Regions from separate parts of the Homo sapiens genome. Here region 1 is linked to region 2. A link means that fine-mapping ties the variant in region 2 to the expression of a gene that starts in the linked region. Tissue or cell type: whole blood. Region 2 holds a variant in brackets; the other region holds the start of a gene. All regions are shown on one strand. Distances are between the middles of the regions.

The links. PIP is the estimated chance that this variant, and not a neighbour inherited with it, causes the effect.
Region 1: FCGRT starts here. The variant in region 2 is fine-mapped to the expression of FCGRT in whole blood (TOPMed, PIP above 0.99).

The regions. Positions count from the first base shown.
Region 1 is chr19:49,508,361-49,516,360 of GRCh38, reverse strand. FCGRT (Fc gamma receptor and transporter) reads right to left here and starts at 3,700. Exons shown (of 7, transcript NM_001136019.3): 1 at 3,611-3,700; 2 at 2,888-2,974; 3 at 2,228-2,479; 4 at 1,875-2,150. The coding sequence starts at 2,960. RefSeq lists enhancers at 1,477-2,190, 4,118-4,680.
Region 2 is chr19:49,538,337-49,546,336 of GRCh38, reverse strand. It overlaps RCN3 (reticulocalbin 3), which reads right to left. Exons shown (of 7, transcript NM_020650.3): 5 at 7,158-7,218; 6 at 3,585-3,784; 7 at 2,704-3,231. The coding sequence ends at 3,124. Among named protein-coding and RNA genes, the nearest start is that of RCN3, 14 kb to the right of the region's middle. The variant A/G (reference allele first, on the strand shown) is at 3,678.

The DNA of each region.
Region 1 (8,000 bases), 30 kb after region 2:
TGAGGCAGGAGAATCACTTGAACCTGGGAGGCGGAGGTTGCAGTGAGCCGAGATCGCGCCATTGCACTCCAGCCTGGGCGACAAGAGCGAAACTCTGTCTCAAAAAAAGAAAGAAATTTTCCCTACTTAGGAAAGAAAGAAGACAATTAAAGAAAAACTACCTGGTTGAGTCTCAACTTCTCCTTTGTGGCACTTGGAATGAATATCTGTGCACATCCCCAGCTGGTATCTATCTTTGTCCAGCAGCCTGGGAGCCACAGAGGGTGAATGTGTGTCACTTCCCTCTTTGCTCAAGGCCCAGAGCAGCGCCTGGCAGTGCAAATGCTCTTGGCCAACAGTTGAATGAGTGGGGATCTGGGGGCCTCCGGGGAGGAAACAGTGAACTCTGCCCTACAGAGCTGAGGAAAGGCTTCTCAGAGGAAGTGATATCCAGCCCTGACCTTGAAGAATAAGGAGGGCTGGAGTATATGCAGAGAGGGGGAAGGGTGGAACAGAGAGGTGCCAGGGGAAACTGGATGAGCAAATGCCCAGAGGGAGGAGATTGCTTATGTTGGGTGGCTGGAGCGTAGACTCTGATGGCTGCGTAGAGACAAGTGCTGCTGCGTGGGTCTGATGAGGACATTAAGGCAAGGAAGGCCAAGCACAGTGGCTCACACCTGTCATCCCAGCACCCTGGGAGGCCAAAGTGAGAGAATCACTTGAGGCCAGGAGTTTGAGTCTGGCCTGGGCAGCATAGTGAGATGCCACCTCTACAACAAATTTTAAAAATTAGCCAGGTATGGCCAGACGCGGTAGCTCACTCCTGTAATCCCAGCACTTTGGGAGGCGGAGGTGGGTGGATCACTTGAGGTCAAGAGTTTGAGACCAGCCTAGCTACCATGACGAAACCCCATCTCTACTAAAAGTATAAAAATTAGCCAGACATGGTGGATGTGCCTATAGTGCCAGCTACTCATGAGGCTGAAGCAGCGGAATCCCTTAAACCCAGGAGGCGGAGGTTGCAGCGAGCTGAGATCACCCTGCTTCACACTAGCCTGGGCAACAGAGATTGTGCGGAAAAAAAAAAATTAGCCAGTTATGGTGGTATGCACCTGTAATCTCAGCTACTCAGGAGACCAAAGCAGGAGAATCGCTGGAGCCTAGGAGTTCAAGACCAGCCTGGGCAACATAGTGAGACACCGTGTCTACAAAATATAAAGTTAGCCAGGTGTGATGATGCTGGGCTGTGGTCCCAGCTACTTGGTTGGCTGAGGTGGGAGGACTGCTTGAGCCTGGGAGGTTCAGGCTGCAGTGAGCCGAGATGGTGCCACCACATTCCAGCCTGGGGTGACAGAGCGAGAATCTGTCTCAAAAAAAAAAAAAAGGGGGGAGCCAGGAGCAGTAGCTCATGCCTGTAATCCCAGCACTTTGGGAGGCTGAGGTGGGCGGATCACCTGAGGTCAGGGGTTTGAGACCAGCCTGACCAACATGAAGAAACCCCGTCTCTACTAAAAATACAAAATTAGCCGGGCATGGTGGTGCATGCCTGTAATCCCAGCCACTCGGGAGGCTGAGGCAGGAGATCACTTGAACCCGGGAGGCGGAGGTTGTGGTGAGCCGAGATCGCGCCATTACACTCCAGCCTGGGCAACAAGAGCGAAACTCCGTCTCACAAAAAAAAAAAAAAAAAGAAGGCAAGGAAGGAAGCCAGGAGTTTGTCCTGGGGGGCGCTGGGGAGCCATGGGAGGGCTGAGTGTAGAAGGACCCCTGAGGAATGGGGGGGCAGAGCGTGGGCTGCAGTGGGAGGCTGATGGAGGGTCCTGGCAGGGGAACTGAGGCAGGTGGGCATGACGGGAGAGAGGACAGAACAGCCTGCGGCTGCAGATCCGGCTCACCCTTCCACTCCAGGTTTCCGCGGCCCCTCTCCAGGTGCTCCCGCAGGCGGTGCGGGCAGGAGAATAGCAGGAAGGTGAGCTCCTTGTTGGCCGCCTTGTCCTGCTGCTGCCACCGCTGACTGATAGCCAGGGCCTCGGGCCAGTCCCCACCCCAGGTGCCCTGCTTGAGGTCGAAATTCATGAACTCCTCGCCGTTCAGGGCGAACTTGGCGGTGGGCACCGAGGTGTTGTCAGGGCCCAGTTCACAGCCCAGCAGGCCCTGCAGAGTGTAGGGACCTGGGGCGCCCAAACACAGGTAAGCGGGGCCCCGGAGCATGGACCCGGCCCCTTGCCCCTCCAGACCGGAATCTCACCTTTTCCCCCCAAAGCTTTGAAAGCTTCCAGAAAGAGCTTCTCCTTGATCCTCAGATCTGTGGTCTCTTTCTCCCAATACCAGGACACCTGGTTTTCCCAGACCCAAGCTCCACAGGGCTCCGCCTCGCCCCGCAGGCTATTGTAGCTCAGGTACTGCTGCGGGCCCAGCCAGCCGGACACCCAGAAGGCAGGAGTCCCCGGGGCAGGCGAGGACACCGCGGTAAGGTGGTACAGGAGGGAGAGGTGGCTTTCTGCAGACAGAAACAGAGCTGAAGGGAGCACACGGGCGGGGAACTAGACTGCAGTGGGACAGATACCCAGGGAGGGAGAAGAATCTATTATGGAGGGAGGGGGACAGATTCAGAGAGAGGGGACAGAAACCCGGGGGGGGGGGGACAGAGACCCAGAGAGAGAGAGACAAGAGACCCAGAAAGAGAGGGGGACAGAGACCCAGAGAGAGAGAGGGAAACAGACACAAGAGGCGACAGGTGGTTCCCAGCCTCAGGCCCAGCAGGAGACGTTGAGAAAGTTAATTGAGCGGAGAAGGCAGCGCCAGGGGCTCGCGGGGAACTCGGGTCCCGCTGGCTTCGCCCCTGCCTGCCTGGGGCCGCCTCCCGCCGCCCGCCTGCAGCAGGGCCCTGGCCCGGAGCGGCCCTCACCTGCGCCCAGGCTCCCAGGAAGGAGAAAGAGCAGGAGCCCCAGCGCCCAGGGCTGAGGCCGCGGGACCCCCATGCTGAGAGGACGACCTGGGGCGGGAGGGGGCACGTGACTCCTCCCGACCCCCGGCCCGCCCCTTCCTCCCGGGACACCGCGGGCACGGCCGGGACCAGGACGCCGAGGAGGGGCTCTGCGGGCTCGGTCCAGACTGACAACAATGCCCTCCTCGTACCTGAAGAACTTTCACCCCTGAACTGGATCTCAGTTGGTTAATTAATTACAGACACTTGATAGGCTGAGAGTCCCGGCCCCGAGCTCCGCCACGCCCCTTCCGCCCCCCTCAGGCCCCAGCCCCTCCTCCCTCAGACCCCGGAGTCCAGGCCCCCAACCGCTCTTCCCTCGGACCCAGGAGTCCGGGCCCCCAACCGCTCTACCCTCGGACCCAGGAGTCCGGGCCCCCAACCGCTCTACCCTCGGACCCAGGAGTCCGGGCCCCCAACCCCTCCTCCCTCGGACCCAGGAGTCCAGGCCCCCCCGGCCCCTCCTCCCTCCTCCCTCAGACCCAGCGTCCAGACCCCCAGTCCCTCCTCTCTCAGACCCAGGAATCCAGGCCCCCACCCCTCCTCCCTCAGACCCAGTGTCGAGACCCCCAGCCACTCCTCCCTCAGACCCAGGGTTCCAGGCCCCCAGCCCCTCCTCCCTCAGTCGGGCCCTGGTCGGCTCACGTTCCCTTCAGCCTCGCTCCCTTCCTGCCTGCGGCCCTGGCCGGCTCCTGGCTCCCGTGACTGGAGACCCCAGTTCCTCTCTCACATCCTGTGGGAGGCTGCTGCTCCCTGACTCCAAGAACATCCAGCCCCACCCCCCAGTTGCAGGGCACACCCCAGGCCCTAGGCCCAGCCTGTTTGTTTCTCAAAACGCTTGTGGTTCTTCTTTTTCCTTCTCTGTGGTTCCCGTTTTTTACTTTGAGGGTGTCTGCCGCTCAGGGAATTCTTGACAAAACTGGGAAAGGAACTCGATGCCTCCGGAGTCCACAACTTGGAGGTCTCTGGATCCTCCTCCTACCCCTCTGTATCCCCGTGGCCTTCCCTAGCGCTCGCTGTTAATCAAAATCTTCTGGAAGCCTCCTTAGTTCCTCCTTCAAGCCCTTCCCCCGGCATCCCCTTAAAAAATTCCTGCAGGTGCTCTTTAATATCCTTCTGCGGGCCGGGCGCAGTGACTCACGCCTGTAATCCCAGCACTTTGGGAGGCCAAGGCGGGCGGATCACGAGGTCAGGAGTTCGAGACCAGCCTGGCCAATATGGTGACACCCCCGTCTCTACTAATAATACAAAAATTAGCTGAGCGTGGTGGTGGGCCTGTGGTCCCAGCTACTCGGGAGGCTGAGACAGGAGAATTGCTTGAACCCGGGAGGTGGAGGTCGCAGTGAGCCGAGATTGCACCACTGCACTCCAGACTGGCAACAGAGCGAGACTCCGTCTCAAAAAAAAAAAAAAACCACATCCTTCTGCTAGGACTTCAGTGACCACATGGTCCCCATACAATGCTGCCTCACTCGAAGGCCCCTCCAGGCACCAGCCCCCGCCCACACTCCTGCTACAAAGCTTCCCATACACTTATTTCATTGTGGTAAAATATTCAAAATATTTACCCTTACTGTCATTTAACACATTTACAGTGCTGTGCAACTGTCACCTCTATCCGAGTTCCAGAGCTTTTTTATCACCCCAAACAGAAGGTCTGTCCCCGTTAAACAGCCGCTGCTCCCAGACCCCTGGCAACCATTCATCTGCTTTCTGTCTTGATAGATTTGCCTATTCTGCACATTTCAAAGAAATTGAATCATATAATATGAAGTCTTTCCTTCCTTCCTTCCTTGCCTCCTTCCTTCCTTCCTTCCTTGCCTCCTTCCTTCCTTGCCTCCTTCCTTCCTTCCTTCCTTCCTTCCTTCCTTCCTTCCTTCCTTCCTTCCTTTCCTTTTTTTTGACAGGGTCTGGCTCTGTCACTCAAGCTAGAATGCCGTGGAGCGATCATGGCTCACTGCAGCCTCAACCTCCCAAGCTCAAGCACTCCACCTGCCTTAGCCTCTCAAGGAGCTGGAATTACACACACTTGCCACCAGGCCCAGCTAATTTTTGTATTTTTGCAGAGATAGTGTCTTGCTATGTTTCCCAGGCTGGTCTCAAACTGCTGGGCTCAAGACAGCCTCCCACCTTGGCCTCCCAAAGCACTGGGATGACAGGTGCAAGACACCCATGCCTGGCCTGTTTTCAGCTCTATTGAGCATACATCTGGGAGTGGAACTGCTGGTCAGGTAGTTCAGGTTCTCTAGAGAAACAGAATCCACAGAATGTGTATATGCATACACAGAAAGAGATTCATTTGAGGAATTGGCTTCCAGGATTAGTGGACGTTCAGCTGGTTCAGAGTCTGATGCGGGGGCCAGGTGTGGTGGTGCATGCCTGTCATCCCAGCACTTTGGGAGGCCAAGTTGGGAGGATCGCTTGAGTCCAGGAGTTTGAGACCAACCTGGCCAACATAGGGAGACCCTGTCTCTATTTTTAAAAAAAATTTCAAAAATGTTGGACGCGGTGGCTCAAGCCTGTAATCCCAGCACTTTGGGAGGCCAAGGCGGGCAGATCACGAGGTCATGGTGAAACCCCATCCCTACTAAAAATATAAAAAAATTAGCGAGGCATGGTGGCAGGCGCCTGTAGTCCCAGTTACTCAGGAGGCTGAGGCAAGAGAATGGCGTGAACCCGGGAGGCGGAGCTTGCAGTGAGCTGAGATCCCGCCACTGCCCTCCAGCCTGGGCGACAGAGCAAGACTCCATCTCAAAAAAAAGAAAGAAAGAAAGAAAGAAACCCCAAAGTCTAATGGGGGAGCCAGCAGGTGGGAGACACAATTGCCTAGCAGGACTCCCTCTCCCTCTGGGCAGACTTTTCTTCTTTTTTTTTTTTTTGAGACGCAGTCTCGCTCTGCCATCAGGCTGGAGCGCAATGGCCCGATCTTGGCTCACTGCAACCTCCGCCTCCCGGGTTCAAGCGATTCTCCTGCCTCAGCCTCCCAAGTAGCTGGGATTACAGGCACCTGCCACCACACCCGGTTAATTTTTGTATTTTTAGTAGAGACGGGGATTTCACCATGTTGGCCAGGATGGCCTCGATCTCTTGACCTCGTGATCTGCCCGCCTCAGCCTTCCAAAGTGCTGGGATTATAGGCGTGAGCCACCGCACCCAGCCGAGACTTTTCTTCTATTCAGGGTTTCAAGTGGTTGGATGAGCCTCCCTCAATTCAGGAAGGGGAACCTCCTTTACTCAAAGCCTAACAATCTAAACATAAATCTCAGCTGGGCACAGTGGCTCATGCCTGTAATCCCAGCACTTTGGTAGGCCAAGGCAGGAGGATCGCTTGAGTTCAAGGACCAGCCTGAGTAACAGAGAGAGCTTATCTCTACAAAAAATTAAAATATTAGCCGGGTGTGGTGGTGCGCACTTGTGGTCCCAGCTACTCAAGAGGCTGAAGCTGGGGGACCCCTTGAGCCCAAGAGTTGGAGGCTGCAGTGAGCCGTGATGGCGCCACTGCACTCCAGCCTGGGCAGCAGCAAGACCCTGTCTCACAAATATATATGTAAATCTCATCCTAAAACACCCTCATAGAGACATCCAGAATAATGTTGACCGAATATCTCTTCACTCACTGTGGCTCAGCCAAATTGACACATAAAATTAACCAGGTAAATCTCTGTTCTCCTTGTCCAGAATGTCTTCATTTTTCTCATTCTGCCTGTGTCCTACTGTGTCCTACCTGATTCTCCCTGTGTCCTACTAGAAGGGAGATCCAGTGACACCCATCCCAAGGTCCACTCCTAAGAGACAGAAAGAACCTGCTTTAACTTCTTCTTTTCTTCTTTTCTTTTCTTTTTTTTATTTTTTGAGACAGAGTCTTGCTCTGTCGCCCAGGCTGGAGGGCAGTGGTGCAGTCTCGGCTCACTGCAAGCTGCGCCTCCCAGGTTCACGCCATTCTCCTGCCTCAGCCTCCCGAGTAACTGGGACTACGTGAGCCTGCCACCACGCCTGGCTAATTTTTATATTTTTAGTAGAGACAGGGTTTCACCGTGTTAGCCAGGATGGTCTCGATCTCCTGACCTCGTGATCCGCCCGACTCGGCCTCCCAAAGTGCTGGGAATTACAGGTGTGAGCCACTGCGCCTGGCCACCTGCTTTAATTTCTTAAGAATCCTAATTACAGCACCCTCAGCTCTTCCCCAAAATACCCTGAGGCAACTGCCCTGTCCTTAGCTGTCCCCTCTAGTTTCCTTGGGATCATGTAATGTCTTCAGGACACTATTCCAGCAGCCCCTGGGCCCCATTTTAAGGTTCCTTGGACCCTGACAGAATCCTCAATGCCCTGTTACAGTGTCCCTCAGGAGCCTGCTATGCTTTTCCTGGAAGTCTGACTACCATCACTGTGGGGTCCTCTATAACCCAGCCTTAGCTCTCACGTCCCCACCCCCAGGGCCCTGCTGTAACATTACCAGGACATTCGTAAAGCTCCTTGGACCACCTATGATACTCACAGGTTTTGTGTTCCTTTTTTTTTTTTTTTTTAGATGGAGTCTGGCTCTGTTGCCCAGCTTGGAGTGCACTGGTGCGAACTCGGCTCACTGCAACCTCCGCCTCCCGGGTTCAAGAGATTCTCCTGCCTCAGCCTCCTGAGTAGCTGGGATTACAGGCACCCGCCACCACACCCGGCTAATTTTTGTATTTTTAGTAGAGACGGCGTTTCACCATATTGGCCAGGCTGGTCTCGAACTCCTGACCTCGTGATCCACCCGCCTCGGCCTCCCAAAGTGTTGGGATTACAGGCGTGAACCACCGCACCCAACAATTTTGTGTTCTTTCTGGAGGCTCCAGGGAAGAATCGGTGTTTTTGCCTTTCCCAGCTTCTAGAAGCTACCAGCATTCCTTGGCTCATGGCCCAGTCCTCCATCTTCAAGGCCAGCAGCACGGCATCCTCTCCCCTCTCTGACCCATATGTCGGTCCTCACGTCTTCTCTCTCCGACACCAACCCGCCTGCCTCCCTCTCCAAAGGAGTCCTGTGATTATGTTTAGGGCT
Region 2 (8,000 bases):
GGAGGTCGGGGAGGGCGGATCACCTGAGGTCGGGAGTTCGAGACCAGCCTGGCCAACATGGTGAAACCCCGTCTCTAATAAAAATACAAAAATTAGCCGGGCGTGGTGGTCCATGCCAGTAATCCCAGCTACTCGGGAGGCTGAGACAGGAGAATCACTTCAGCCCGGGAGGTGGAGGTTGCAGTGAGTCAAGATCATGCCATTGCACTCCAGCCAGGATGACAAGAGCAAGACTCCATCTCAAAAAAAAAAAAAAAAAAAAAAAAAAAAAATAGCTATCGGCCAGGCACAATGGCTCAAGCCTGTAATCCCAGCACTTTGGGAGGCTGAGGCAGGTGGATCACCTGAGGTCAGGAGTTCGATACCAGCCTGACCAACATGGAGAAACCCTGTCTCTACTAAAAATACAAAATTAGCCAGGCGTGGTGGTGCATGCCTGTAATCCCAGCTACTCAGGAGGCTGAGGCAGGAGAATCGCTTGAACCTGGGAGGTGGAGGTTGCAGTGAGCCGAGATTGTGCCATTGCACTCCAGCCTGGGCAACAAGAGCAAAACTCTGTCTCAAAAAAAAAAAAAAAAAAAAAGTAAATTTTGAATTGAATTCTATCATGCATAAAAGGGCATACATCACATGTGGAGAACTGAATGAATTTTCATAATCTGACCACCCCTGGGAAGCAGTACCTAGATCAAGAATAGGCTATTTTCCAGCCTCCCTCTCCCGATAAGAAGCCCATGAGGTCCATTCTGGTCCCTCCCCCGCAAGGGTGAACAACATCCTGAGTTCTAACCCCCAGATTAGTTTTGCCTGTTCTTGAATTTCCTTTTTAAAAATTAATTAGTAAATTAATTTTTTTAGTAAGTTAATTTTTTTTTTTGAGACAGAGTCTCGCTCTGTCTCCCAGGCTGGAGTGCAGTGGCGCGATCTCGGCTCACTACAAGCTCCGCCTCCCGGGTTCAGGCCATTCTCCTGCCTCAGCCTCCCGAGTAGCTGGGACTACAGGCGCCCGCCACCATGCCTGGCTAATTTTTTGTATTTTTTAGTAGAGGCGGGGTTTCACCGTGTTAGCCAGGATGGTCTCGATCTACTGACCTCGTGATCTGCCTGCCTCGGCCTCTGAAAGAGCTGGGATTACAGGCGTGAACCACCGTGCCCGGCCATAAACTAATTTTTAAATAGAGATATGGTCTCTATAAATGGCGTGAGCCCGGGAGGTGGAGCTTGCAGTGAGGTGAGAGTGCGCCACTGCACTCCAGCCTGGGCGACAGAGCGAGACTCCGTCTCAAAAAAAAAGAAAGAAAAAAAAAAAGAGATGCCATCTTTATAAAAGATCATCCCAGACTGGTCTTGAACTCCTGGCCTCAAGCAATCCTTGATTAATCCTTGGGATTACAGGCGTGAACCACTGCGCCCAACCCGACTCTTAAATAACTCAAAGCAGTTTATAATCCCTCCTCTGCTCATGACACTCCAGCGACTCTCATGTCACTCAGAATAAATTCTGTGTCTCTCTGGGTCTCTATCCCCATTCTCTTTGGATCTCTGTCCCCCACTCTCTGGGTCTCTGTTTCCCTCTCTCTGAGTTTCTGTCTCCCTCTCTCTGGGTCTCTGTTCCCCTCTCTCTCTCTGGGTCTCTGTTCCCCTCTCTCTCTGGGTCTCTGTTCCCCTCTCTCTCTGGGTCTCTGTCCCTCTCTCTCTGGGTCTCTGTTCCCCTCTCTCTCTGGGTCTCTGTCCCTCTCTCTCTGACTCCCCACCCCTTCTCTCTGGGTCTCTGTCCATCCCTGTCTTGTGCCACCAAACAGGGACCACCATGACCTGCCTGCAGGGGCCTGCACAGTCTGGCCACTTGCCCCATCTGCTCTCAGCTCTGACCCTCTTCCACTGGCTCATTCCCTTCCAGCCACTCTAGCCTCCTTGCTGATGCTGCCACACCAGGCCCACTCCTGCCTCAGGGCCATTTTACTTGCTCTTCTCTCTCCCTGGAATGCTCTCCCTCCAGATCTCTCCGTGGCTCCCTCCTTCACTCCATTTACCATTGAGACCTTTCCCAGCCTCTCAGTCATCAGAACATTGCCACACTGCTACACGCTTCCCCTGCTTCACAGCATCTGTTGCGCCGTGCCATATTTTAGGTCGCTGTGTCTCTTCCTTACAGAACTGGAGCTCTGAGAGGGCAGGGCTTCCTGTCTGGTTTGTGCGCTGCAGAGTCCAGGCTTTTTTTCCCTTTTTTTTTTGAGACAGAGTCTCCCTCTGTCACCCAGGCTGGAGTGCAGTGGCGCCATTTCGGCTCACGACAACCTCCACCTCCCGGGTTCAAGCGATTCTGCTTCAGCCTCCAGAGTAGCTGGGATTATAGGTGCCCATCACCAGGCCTGGTTAATTTTTGTATTTCTAGTAGAGACGGGGTTTCACCATGTTGGCCAGGCTGGTCTAGGACCCCCGACCTCGTGATCTACCCGCCTCAGCCTCCCAAATTGCTGGGCTTACAGGCGTGAGCCACCGGGCCTGGCCCAATTTTTTTTGTTTGTTTGTTTTATACTGAGGAACGCCCTCCAATCCCTCCAACACCCAGCACCCCTCCTTCAAATGCCTGGTCCCCTATTGCATGTCTCAGCCCCCAACTCCCAGTCACAGCCCCCAAACCATCTCCAGGGCCCCCTTACCCTTCATAGAGACAGGCAGACAACAGACAGACACACAAGGTCCCGGCGCTGGCTTTTATTGCCTCCTGGCAGAGAGGAGGTGTCCCAGGCCAGGCCAGGCAGGAGAGGGCTGGGGCCAGGGGAGTTTCAGTCTATGTGGTGGAGGCTCAGATTTGGAGCTGGAGGGGTTGGGGCGGTTCTTAGAGCTGAGCTTGGGGCCAAGGGTCCCTGGGTCTGGGCTGGGAGACTCAGTCAGAAATAGGTATTGCTTATCCTCTGGGACTATGACAGCCCCTCCCTGGGGTTGGGGGTGTGACAGGGACAGAAGCCGACCCAGGGGGTCCCTGAGAGCCCAGGGGCAGGAGGATGCCTGGGACTGCATCTGCCTCCTGCGGGGCCTGGACAGGGAGGGGGCCAGACCACAGCGGCCCCTCCTCCGGTCATTGTGCGGGCCTCTGAGGCTGTGGCAGGTGCGCGGTGCTCACAGCTCATCGTGGTGCCGGGTCAGGTCCTCGCCATAGTTGGTGGCCTGACTGCCCACAAACATGTTCCAATTACCCAGGATTTCCGCTTTGCTCAGCCGCCCATCCTGGAGGGAGGGTCAGGGTTCAGAGGGGACAACACGGCCCTGCTTTCAAAAGCCCTCCCTGCATCCAAGCGTGTCCCGAAGTCTCTGGGACCCTTGTTCTCTGGGCCTCTGTCCCTTTCTCTCTGAATCTGTCCCCGTCTTGGTCCCTGTCCTTCTCTCTTTGGGTCTCTGGGTCTCTGTCCCCCTCTCTTTCTGGGGCTCCGTGCCCTCTCTTTTCCTCCCTCTCTCTGTCCCTCTTTTTTTATCCCACCTAAAAGGGACCCTGAGCTCCAGGCCCAGGTCTTGCTCCTTTCTGGAGTCTGGCCCGCAATGCCCACCCGCTCCTCGCTCCTGCCGAGGCCCCGTCACTGCACCTTGTCCGTGTCGCTCTCGTGCAGCAGGTGGTTGGCTTCCACCAGGGGCTGGTCCTGGGCAGGGGGCAGCACCCAGTGGCCCACCTCACTCCC[A/G]TCCAGGTGCCCATCCTTGTTCAGATCCCGGAAGTCCCGGAACTGCTGCCTCTCCGTCTGCACCCACGCCGGCTCCTCCTCCCCAGGCTCGGCTGAGTACAGATCCGCTGGGGGCCGGGACAGAGGGGACAAGGTCAGGGGCAGCTCTGGGGGTCTAGTGGAGCTGGGGGCTGATCCTGGCTCTGATACTTCCTGAACCAGGCCCTTGAGCAACTCACTACCCTCTCTCTCGCCTCAGCGTCCTCTTCTGTTTCGATGGAATTAGTAACAAAACCTGACTTATAAGCAATCATTTGTGTTACAGGTGAAATTCATTTGATTGGTTGATTGCATGATTGATTGATTTCATTGACACACACGTGAAGTAGTGTGTGCAATGGGCAAGGCAGTGCCTGGCACATAGTAAGCAATGTCTATGCAGGAGGAACGTGCGAGGATGTTTCTGGCCAGTTAGCAGGTGACAGAGATGCCAGGTGCAGTGATGACTGTAATCCAACACTTTGGGAGACCCAGGCAGGAGGGTCATTTGAGGCCAAGATTCAAGACCAACCTGGGCAACATAGCAAGACCCTGTTTCTACAAATTTTTTTTTTTTTTTTTGAGATGGAGTCTCGCTGTGATTACCCCACTGCACTCCAGCCTGGGCAACAGGGCAAGACCCCACCCCCTTTTTTTTTTTAAGATGGAGTTTCGCTCTTGTTGCCCAGGCTGTAGTGCAATGGCGCAATCTCAGCTCACTGCAACCTCTGCCTCCCAGGTTCAAGCGATTCTCCTGCCTCAGCCTCCCAAGTAGCTGGGATTACAGGTGCGTGCCACCACACCCAGCTAATTTTTATATTTTTAGTAGAGGCGGGGTTTCACCATCTTGGCCAGGCTGCTCTCAAACTCCTGACCCCATGATCCACCTGCCTCAGTCTCCCAAAGTGCTGGGATTACAGGCTGGAGTGCAGTGACACAATCTCAGCTCACTGCAACCTGCACCTTCTGGGTTCAAGTGATTCTCCTGCCTCAGCCTCCCAAGTAGCTGGGATTACAGGTACCCGCCACCACGCCCAGCTAATTTTTCTAGTTTTAGTAGAGACAGGGTTTCATCATGTTGGCCAGGCTGGTCTTGAACTCTTGACCTCAAGTGATCCACCCACCTTGGCCTCCTAAAGTGCTGGGAATACAGGCGTGAGCCATGGCACCCACCCCAATTTTATACATTTTGATATGTTACTGGTTGGGGAGGAGTTAAGAAATAGGTGCCAGAGCCCAAACACCAAGGTTCAAATCCTAGCCCTGCCTCTTCCCATTGTCTTCAGCAGATCCCTTCAACCCCCCTGGGCCTCAGGTGTCATCTATATAATGGAGGATAGTGACAGTGTCTGCCTGGTAGAGCTGAGGAATGGAAGATGAAGTCTTAATGGGATGAAGTAATTGAGAAGATAGGCTGGGTGCGGTGGTTCGCGCCTGTAATCCCAGCACTTTGGGAGGCCGAGGCAGGTGGATAACCTGAGGTCAAGAGTTCAAGACCAGCCTGACCAAAATGGTGAAACCCCGTCTCTACTAAAAATACAAAATTAGCCAGGCGTGGTAGTGCACGCCCATAATCCCACCTACTCAGGAGGCTGAAACAAGAGAATTGCTTGAACCTGGGAGGCGGAGGTTGCAGTGAGCCGAGATCATGCCACTGCACTCCAGCCTGGGCGACAATAGCGAGACTCTGTCTCAAAAAAAAAAAAAAAGAGATGGGGACAGCTGCTGGCATCTGGGGCCTGTGACCTCCTTGTTGTCAGGGCCTGTCCTGTGCACCGGAGAATGCTAAGGAGCATCTCTGGGCTCTATCCAGGAGACGTCAGTAGCATCCTCACCCCTCTAGAAGTGACAACCAGAAGTATCTCCAGAGGCCGCACTGTGCCTGGAGTCTCAGCTACTTGGGAGGCTGAGGTGGGAGGATCCCTTGAGCCCAGGAGGTCAAGGCTGCAGTGAGCCAAGATCACCCCACTGCACTCCAGCCTGGGCGACAGGGCAAGACCCCATCTTTTTTTTTTTTTTTTAAGATGGAGTTTCGCTCTTGTTGCCCAGACTGAAGTGCAATGGCGCGATTACAGCTCACTGCAACCTTTGCCTCCCGGGTTCCAGAGATTCTCTTGCCTCAGTCCCCAGAGTAACTGGGATTACAGGCTCCTGCCAACAGGCCCGGCTAATTTTTGTATTTTTAGTACACCATCTTGGCCAGGCTGGTCTCGAACTCCTGACTTCATGATCCATCCATCTCAGCCTCCCAAAGTGCTGGGATTACAGGTATGAGCCACTGCGCCTGGCCCAACCCCATCTCTTAAGAAAAAAATATAAAAATGTTCTCTCAGCCAGGTGTGGTGATTCATGCCTGTAATCTCAGCTCTTTGGGAGGCCAAGGTGGGAAGATTGCTTGAGCCCAGGAGTTCTAGACCAGCCTGGACAATATAGTGAGAACCCATCTCTATTTAATAAAGAGAGAGACACACACACACACAGACAGACAGATAGAAAGAAAGAGTGACAGAAAGAAAGAAAGTGAGAGAAGGAAAGAAAGAAAAATGTTTTCTCATGTAGGATGTGGTCAGAAAAAAATAAAAGAATAAACAATGTTTTCAAACTTAAAAAAAAATTCCTGGCCGGGCGTGGTTGCTCACGCCTGTAATCCCACCACTTTGGGAGGCCAAGATGAGCAGATCACCTGAGGTTGGGAGTTCTAGACCAGCCTGGCCAACATGGTGAAATCCCATCTCCACTAAAAATACAAAAATTAGCCAGGCGTGGTGGCAGGCACCAGTAATCCCAGCTACTCAGGAGGCTGAGGCAGAAGAATCTCTTGAGCCCGGGAGGCGGAGGTTGCAGAGAGCCGATACCACGCCACCGCGCTCCAGCCTGAGCAACAGAAAAAAACTGTCTCAAAAAAAAAAAAAAAAAAAAAAAATTCCTTGTTAGCGTTCTCCTTGACTAAATTTTTTGCCCGCTAGGGGCAGGGACAGTGGCAGGGGCCCAGGGAGAACTCAGAACTCAGGGGGTATTGTGAGGATCCCCCAACATCCCATGTAACAGGAAACAGTGTTTGCTGTGCAGGCGCAGGTTCAAGACCAGCTTCCTGACCCCCATTCTCAACTAAACATAGCCCCTGAGCCTTGATTTTGTAGAAACTCCAGACCCCCAAGAAGGGATTTGTCTGTGTTATTGTCTGCTGTAGGCGCAACCACCCATATGCAGTAGGTGCTCAGTAAGTGTATCCTGGGCGTGACACACAGCAGGTGCTCAATAGATGCTTTTTGTGTCTGGTATAGAGTAGGTGCTCAATAAATGTTGGGTGGCTAAATGAACTCAAGCAGTGAGTGCCCCTGCCCCCATGTCTGAGGGCCACTGTTCTCTGATGATGGGTGATGTACCTCCGGCTACCCCCACCAACCCTGCCCATGCCTGAGAGAGGACAGGCATCCCAAGAAGAAATTGGGGCCCACTCACCGATGTACTCCTCCACCTGGACATAGCCATCTTTGTTTCTGTCCAGGTCCTCCAGGGTTTCCTGGAGGAGAAAGGGGCATTGAGGCTGGGGGCCGATGACCCTGGCTCCTGGGGGAGGCTGGACCCCTGGGGTAAGAGTGAGAGGTTCTCTTGGAAATTTAGCTCCGGGCAGCTGTGGGAGGCAGGCAGTAGAGCAGTCTCAACAGGTGGCATGTGGGAAATTTGCGGGCTTTCTGGGATGTTATCATCAAACAGGCACCACCTGCATTTACGGGGCCAGAGCCCAGAGGCCCTAATGTCCAGCAGTGCACAGGTTTGTTGCTCACAAGGGGAGCTGTCCTGGGTCCCTAATAACTTGCTCAAGCCCCAGCAAACACCCTCCAAGGGGAGAAGCTCCTTTATGTTTAGCAGAGCCTAGAACCTACCTCTGCTTTATGTGTGAACATGGTGCACTTTGGGGCTTCTTCTGACACACTGGACACCTCCGCTCCTTGTTTTTGTGCCCTTCTGGAGCAAAACGACTTTTGTTCCCCAATTTATATCCAAACTCATTCACTATAAGACTGTGGGCTGGGCACGGTGGCTCACACCTGTAATCCCAGCACTTTGGGAGGCCGAGGCGGGAGGATCGATTGAGCCCAGGATTTTGAGACTAGCCTGGGCAACATGGCGAGACCCTGTCTCTACACAAAATTTAAAAATTAGCCAGGCATGGCCGGGCGTGGTGGCTCACAACTGTAATCCCAGCACTTTGGAAGGCCGAGGTGGGTGGATCACGAGGTCAGGAGATCGAGACCATCCTGGCTAACACAGTGAAACCCCGTCTCTACTAAAAAAAAAAAA